Linked DNA regions of Homo sapiens. The protein of the gene in region 2 interacts with the protein of the main gene of each other region in a pairwise test. Each region holds a gene or a part of one and is shown on either strand. Other genes may lie near its edges.

Region 1 (3,750 bases), on a different chromosome or scaffold from region 2:
CTCTCTTTTTAGATTATTGTTTAGAGTACTTGTTTCTTGCTGTCCTTATTTCCTTTTGCTAAACATATCACTTTTCACATAATTAAAGATTTTTCATTTATAAGAGGTTACATATTCCAATAGAAATGCCACACACAGTAGGTACTGCTAATCTCACAATTCCTAGAAGACTCATTTGGCCTGAAGATGTTTTGCTTCTGCTTAACTTTGATGGATTAGGAATTCCCCAGCTTATAACCTATCAGAGTAATGTACCATTTACCTCCTAAATTCTCTATCCCTTTCTCCAGGCTATTATAATCACTTGAATTATTTCAATGAATTAATAAATCTCATTCCTCTCTATTGTTCACTTGCAATTGAATCTTTCCAAAGACCACCATGATTTGATTTTGTTAGAGTAAAAGGGAAATTTTTTTCATTGCTGTGTATTGCTGATTTAGCACATTCCTCATGCTCCAACAAGGTCAAAGAGACACTACCACATGCAATTCCGAATGAATCAACTTTACCGTTTCATTTAATTATCTTCTTCCTTGTTTTCTTTACAGTTATTTACTCAAATTAGAAAACATCCAAGCTGTATGCACACTGATTTTACTTATAAAATGCAAACTTTAAAAGCAAACATTTGGTTTGAGTAAACAAATGTCTAAAACTAACCATCGTGAACAAAAGACATAGTGGTAAGTTTCCCTCCTAAACGTAGATTATTCAATTATGAATGGCATAGACTTCAGCTCAAATTACAGAAACACTAACTCTACAGTGAGTCCACCACCACCTTAGATAAAACTAAAATTTATTTTTCACCGCAATTTTCAAATACCAAGTCTCCAGGATTGTGACCTTTAATTTGCAAATGTTAAAAGTCTTTATATGAATAAAAAAAATCACATTTGAATAAATATACTTAGTGAAAATCAATGATGGGCAAAGTGCTTTTCAAACAACTGAGAAGCAGTGTTGGAAAAACAGTCTCAAAGAGCGGATGGTACTGTCAGTCCACAGTTGGGAAATCCACCCTGAGCAGCTGAACAGCCTTTTTCCTAGGAGTCAGTACAATCTGTTATGCACCCCGCCCACTGTTTTTAAGCCCAGACACAGACAACAGCAGAGACAGATGTTGAAATTACACTCCACTTAAACAGTATCCATAGTTTAAAACATCTCAACAGCAGCCCCTTTGTATCCTGCCATAATTAGTCACTTGCTTGTAAACTTGCCGGAAAGAAACATACCTTTCACACTGGGGAGAAATCCTATGGATGCTCGACCACTGGTCAATTAGCAGTGGAAGAAAGTGGATGGCTAGCTGTCTTAAAGAGAAAAGTCTCAGCTCGGTGAATCTCGATTCTTTACAAGAAAAGGGGATGCAAAATAAGTCCAACCATTCCACAGAGCAGTACTGACAAGTCCCTTTGAAACCTTCACCACTTTTACAAGTCAAAAAGCTGCTCAGCTTAGTGTCACAGCAGCAGCTGAGACTACTGTGACGTCAGTTACTTGGAGGCGGCCTTCAAGCCACCTCTTCCAACCAGAGCTCTGTAACTTTAGAGCAGCTCATGCTCTGGGTAAACAACTCCAGGTCCAGGACATTTTTAGCTTTTATAATGGAGCCCAGTATTTTCAAACTTGCCAAAAGAGCTGGTTGTTAACATCATACAATGACAATGGCCAATTTTAGATTTATTTTATTAGGAAAGTAAACTCATTTTTTTATAGGCAAGAATTATCTCCCTCCTTCCATAATTCTTTCTCCTTCTCAGCTGGTGGCAGGATGTACTCTGCTGCACCTTTAGAAGTTTGCATCTGGATGTGGCAGAACAATATGTGTAGCATAATTATATATATTATGCACTCTCAAAAGATCTGTGAAAGTTATCAAACTTCTATCTTCAAATAAAATAGAAATGGAACATAAAGTCCAACCTCTTAGCTCTCTGTGATTCTGACAGTGTGTTGCTTTTATCTACAGTAGTAGCGATGTCTTTACGTTAGAGAAAATCAGAGCCCATGGGAAAGGATGAGATTTCTTATTGTGGGAGGACAAAACACACACACACACACACCCCAAAAATGAGATACCTATGGGCTTATTTTCCACTAAAGTGTGCTGCAGCCATAGGAAGAGAAAGCAGCCTAAGTGTATGGAAAAGCTCTCTAAATCATGATCAAATCAGCCTGTTCTGAAATGCTAGGAGATCTTGCCTCCCCAGCGACATTTTCAGGTTTATTGTGGCTTTGTACACACATGCATCTGATGATATTTGGTTTAATTTAGTCAAAAAAGTCTCTAGAGCAATTTTTTGCCTAACTTAGCAAATACACAAGTTTAAACAATAAGGTCTTATCTTCAAGTCTGAAGAGCTTCCCTGGTGTGGTCTTTAAAGTAATACATATTCACTCACATTATTTTCACCTGCTTCCAGATAAACATTTCATGAGGAGCTAAAGTTTAGTAATAGTAACCTGCTCACAGTAGGACTTTAATACATGTAGGACAATCAAATGAAACCATACTCTGTGTCTGGAAAGCCTGACATCATAATCTCAACAGCAATAACAACAATAACAGTGATAGTTATAGTAATAATAGTGATTATTCACTGAGGGGCAACCCTCTGCAAGGTTCTGTGCTAAGTACTTTGAACAGACCTTTATCTGAGTTCACCCTCAGAGCAATTCTGTCTCTAGATACTGATAATCTGATCTTACTGATAAAACCCAAGCAAGGCTCATTGTGGTAAAGCATCATGCAAAAGTTCATAGAAATGCACCCATGTGGAGGAAACGGGTTTGAACTGTTTTGTCTGATTGCAAACCATGGAATTTTGTCATAGAGATCTAAGTTTCAATTCTGCTGCCACCACTTATCTGTGTGATCTTGCAGACCCTGATTCTTCCTTAAAGACATAATTATATTTACTTTAAGAGGCCATAAGAATATGAGGGAATATATATAGCGCCAAGCACACAATAAAGGGTAGCTCATGTCTGCCTCCATGCTTATGAGGCTAGGAAGAAGATTCTTTGAGAGAGGGAAAGGGAGGAGGGAGTTGCACAAAAACATCAATACAGAATTGTCTTAACATTGTTTCTGGCCGGGTGTGGTTGCTCACACCTGTAATCCCAGCACTTCTGGAGGCGGAGGCAGGTGGATCACATGGGGTCAGGAGTTCGAGACAAGCCTGGCCAACATGGTGAAACCCTGTGTCTACTAAAAATAAAAAAATTAGCCGGCTGTGGTGGCTCAGGCCTGTAATCCCAGCTACTAGGGAGGCTGAGGCAGGAGAATTGCTTGAACCCGGGAGGCAGAGGTTGTAGTAAGCAGAGATGGCATTCCTGCACTCCAGCCTGGTTGACAGAGCAAGACTCTGTCTCAGAGAAACAAAACAAAAAACATTGTTTCCTTTACCTTTTCTTCTACTCCAAACTTCTTAACTTCTATGTATCACTTGTAAATCAAACTAAGACTATTTTGTAAATCCTATCGAAAATTCAGATAGTATGTGTCTAAGTTACAAGAGATGTTAGGTTGGACTATACTTCCTAAGTGTCACTCAGTAGTACCCATTTCAATCTCTTTTAATGGCTGTCCCAGTGTGATTGTCCCAGGGCAATCACAAATAATTGCCCTATGTTTTAGAAAGAATTATGTCATTCATACCTGATGACATACTAATTTATTTCAATGTATATCAGATTCAAGTGCTTCATCTGCTTCTTGTCATGGTAAAGCTGATCTTA
Region 2 (3,750 bases):
AGAGAAAATGAATGTCATTTAGACATACCTGATCCAGTGATGTTCCTGTGTCATGGGCAATTACTCTTAGTGGCTGGCTGCCGGTTCTTATCAGATGGACTCCAATTTTTTCTACAATCTCTCCAAAATGCTCTTGCAGCAACAAAGAACAGAGCTTAATTTCTGCTTGAGTCATTGTACTGGGGAGTCTGAGAGCTAGGGAAAAAACACCAAAATGGTACAATAGAAAGTCTTTCACGCTGGAAGCAGAGCTGCTGAGTGTAAATTCATGTATTCTTTCTGGAGGGCAATTTGACAATACATATCAAAAAGCCTTAAAAATCTTGCATATCTTTGAAACAACAATTTCTTTTTGGATATTGTGTCCAAAGAAAGAAAAAGCTAATAATAATGAAGTCATTAGTTCTCTTTATAATACCGACTTAGTGGAAACAATCTAACGTCTAACAATAAATGATGCCATACCCATACAATGGCATACTACACCAACATTTAAAGTTATTTAGTACGATGCGTATTCATGTAGAAAATTATTCATAATAGGCTGGCGCGGTGGCTCAGGCCTGTAATCCTAGCACTTTGGGAGACCGAGGTGGGCGTATCATGAGGTCAGGAGTTTGAGACCAGCCTGGCCAATATAGTGAAACCCCTTCTCTACTAAAAACACACAAAAAAATTAGCTGGGCGTGGTGGCGGGTGCCTGTAATCCCAGCTACTAGGGAGGCTGAGACAGGAGAATCGCTTGAAGCCGGGAGGCAGAGGTTGCAGTGAGCCGAGATCGCGCCACTGCACTCCAACCCGGGCGACAGTGCGAGATTCTGTCTCCAAAACAAAAAAAAACAAAAAAAATTACTCATAATATATTAAGTGACAGAAGCAAGCTGAAAAAATATAAAAATTCAATTATTGTAAAAAAAAAGGAAAAATGTATGCATAGGAAAAGACTATGCATCAAATTTATCTCTATGGGATTATGCGTGATTCTGATTTTCCTTAAAGATTGGGAGATGATTTTGCGGTCTGTCACAGACCTTAGTTTCTACACTTCACTGCTTGGAAGAATTAAGGTCACTGTTCACAGCTCGGTGGGAGTGAACAGGCAGTGTTATTCTCAGTCCATAAAGGAAATGATAATTTCGAAAAAGAAATTTAGGAGGTAAAGGACTGCTTCTCAACAGGGTGTGTCAAACAGGAGATGAGGTTACGTTGTTTGCAGGACAGTATTCAATTCTTAAACTTCTACTCCTTGACAAAGTTGACACAATCAGAAACGGACGTAGTTAATTTTATGATTACTTCCTTATTACAAATTGCTACCAAACATTGTTTACTTATTTCTTCCAATTCCTAAGAAGCCAAGTCTTTGCCTCCCCGTCCCCACCCCGCCTCAGTATCACCAGAGACCTATTTCGTCCATCCACATATCTTTGGAGAAGCATTCCCAGATCCTTTGCCATCCTCGGAAAGGGCTTCCAAGGCGCTTGGCTCCTAGCTCTACACTTCCTTTACACAGGTTCCCGTTTCGGACGTGGTCTCTTGGTCCAGTCAGTGCCGCCACGTTCAGACAGCATTTTCCACTAACCTCAGGGTCAGCGCAATCCGGGGGCTCCAACTCCAATTCGGCTGAGCTTCCCGCGACGGCTTCCTACGGCTCCCGCTGGCCTTCTAGGCCGAGGTGGAGCCCACCGCCCTTTCTAGGACGCGGATCGCCACCGAAGAAGACGCGGAAAAGCAAAAAGCGCGTGCCACTCTACCCCAGAGTTTCGGCGGCTTCCGGGGACGCTCTTTCTTTCTTCTCGCTGGAAGACTGGAGGACCAGCGAGGGGCTGTTTGTGGAGCCGGCGGGCGGGCCGTTTGTCTCTCCTTCCTGCGCCTCTTTGGTGCTGGGAGGCGGGCCGCAGGGTAGCTGTTGGCGCCGCCGCGTTTCTGGGCCTGGCCAACTCACGTGACCGACGCGGGCTCTGAAGCGGTGGGCCGCACCGAGGCGGCGGCGGCGGCGACGACTGCAGCTCGGGAGGTAGCGGCCTGGCGAGGGACGGGCCGGCTGCCCTCTCGGACGGCCGCGGCGGAGGGCAAAAATGGCGGAGGCTTCGGCGGCCGGGGCGGACTCGGGCGCCGCTGTAGCCGCCCACCGGTTTTTCTGCCACTTTTGCAAGGGCGAGGTCAGCCCCAAACTACCGGTAAGAGCGCTGTGTTCTCTATACTTGGGAACCTCATAGATTCCTGGCCCCGATTTCCCGGAACTGGGTCTGGAGCTTTCTGCACATCATTGACTCGCCCGACATCGGTCTGCCGAATACCTGCTGCCCACTTCTAAGCCGCCGGCCCTAAACCCTGGGCATCACGGCCTCGGCCCCGTACCTCCTGCCCACCTCTTAATTCATCCTGGGCTGCTCCACCTGACCTCACCTCTTTACCTCCCGTGTCCTTAATTTTTTTTTTTCTTAGCAAGTTTCCCTCTGATAACTCTCCCCTCAATTTTCTTGCATTCTTTTATACCTGGTCTTTTTCCTACGATGACCTCCCCCCACACTTCTTCCACTGTGTCTTCTCACCTTCCTCTGTGTTCTTTTCCACTTTTCACCCCCCACCGCCCCCGCCACCTCCCTTGTCAGTGAAGCGAAATAGCGGATTGCTGAGGATTGTCACTCTTCGGTTTTTTCTAGGGAAGGAAGCACAGAAAGGGGGTTGGAAGGTATCTGTGGGGCGAAAAGGGGGATTTTGCTCTTCAGTGGTTTCCAGGGTCCTTGTGACAGTGAAGACAGCAGCGTACTAATGACTTGCAGACGGTCTGCACTCCTATCACTGTTGAAGGAAATGGCTTTAGGAAGAAGGCAGGACGTACTGTTTCAACTTCGTTTATTTTGGTTGTCATGCTGCCAGTGTCTTTAATATCATTGTTCCGCCCCCCGCCCTGTCCCTTTCTTCACCTAAGAAAAAGAGCCGGGACAGAATGTTGGGGATGCTTCCTCTGACGTGAAATTGGTTTTCACGAGTTTCTGCCAGAGTGTTAGCCCCTTGAGAGGCAGTGCTGTGGTTGGGAAGAAAACACTTTTGTAGGTCAGGCGCGGTGGCTTAGGTCTGTAATCCCAGTGCTTTGGGAGGACGAGGCAGGAGGATTGCTTGAGGCCAGGAGTTTGAGACCAGCCTGGGCAACAGAGTGAGACCCCTCTCTACAAAAACAAACAACATTTATGCAGCATACTAGCCAGCACCAGCATCACAAACCCAGAAACTGTTTTGGGTTGGGTTGTAGCTACTACGAGGAGCTCCCCCAGAGTGAATGTCAATCCTGTCCTTGGCCAACTGTCTTTATGGTTGTTCCTTTCCTTACAAGTGTCCAGGTTCAGTCTTGTGATAGAGTGGCAACATAATGTATGTTTCTATTTATGGTGTCTCAGATACAGTGTAGGAGAAAACCTTCTGAAGTGAGTCTGTATATCTTATTTCTTAGAAACACAAATGGAGTCCAGTGAATAAGTGCTTAAAGGGTGTTTTATAGTCTTCTCTCACTCAAAAGTTTTGTTTAAGGCATTATGATACATTCTTTCCTCTCTACTTGCCGCACCCCCTACTTCAGAGTCATAGTTTCATCTAAATGCTACTTAGCTGTTTTTCTTTTTTCTTTTTTTTTTTTTGAGACAGCCTCTGTCTATCACCCAGGAGCATGATTTCGGCTGACTGCAACCTCCACCTGCCGGGTTCAAGAGAGTCTCCTGCCTCGGCCTCCGGGTAGCTGGGACTATAGGT

What was found. The genes of interacting proteins can lie anywhere in the genome.
Region 1: the proteins of POLR3C (region 2) and KIAA0408 interact in binary tests that used the Homo sapiens proteins (3 or more experiments, as listed by UniProt).

Annotation. Positions count from the first base shown.
Region 1 is NC_000006.12:127,457,934-127,461,683, forward strand, and holds the start of KIAA0408 (uncharacterized protein KIAA0408), read right to left. Parts: upstream 1,457-3,750; 5' UTR 1,242-1,456; intron 1-1,241.
Region 2 is NC_000001.11:145,822,202-145,825,951, reverse strand, and holds the start of POLR3C (DNA-directed RNA polymerase III subunit RPC3), read right to left. Parts: upstream 1,753-3,750; 5' UTR 1,583-1,752; intron 1,508-1,582; exon of another isoform or gene 1,424-1,507; coding exon of another isoform or gene 1,405-1,423; intron 196-1,404; coding exon of another isoform or gene 176-195; coding exon 29-175; intron 1-28. Other genes in the region: E3 ubiquitin-protein ligase RNF115, read left to right, coding at 2,079-2,180. UniProt on the Homo sapiens protein: DNA-dependent RNA polymerase catalyzes the transcription of DNA into RNA using the four ribonucleoside triphosphates as substrates.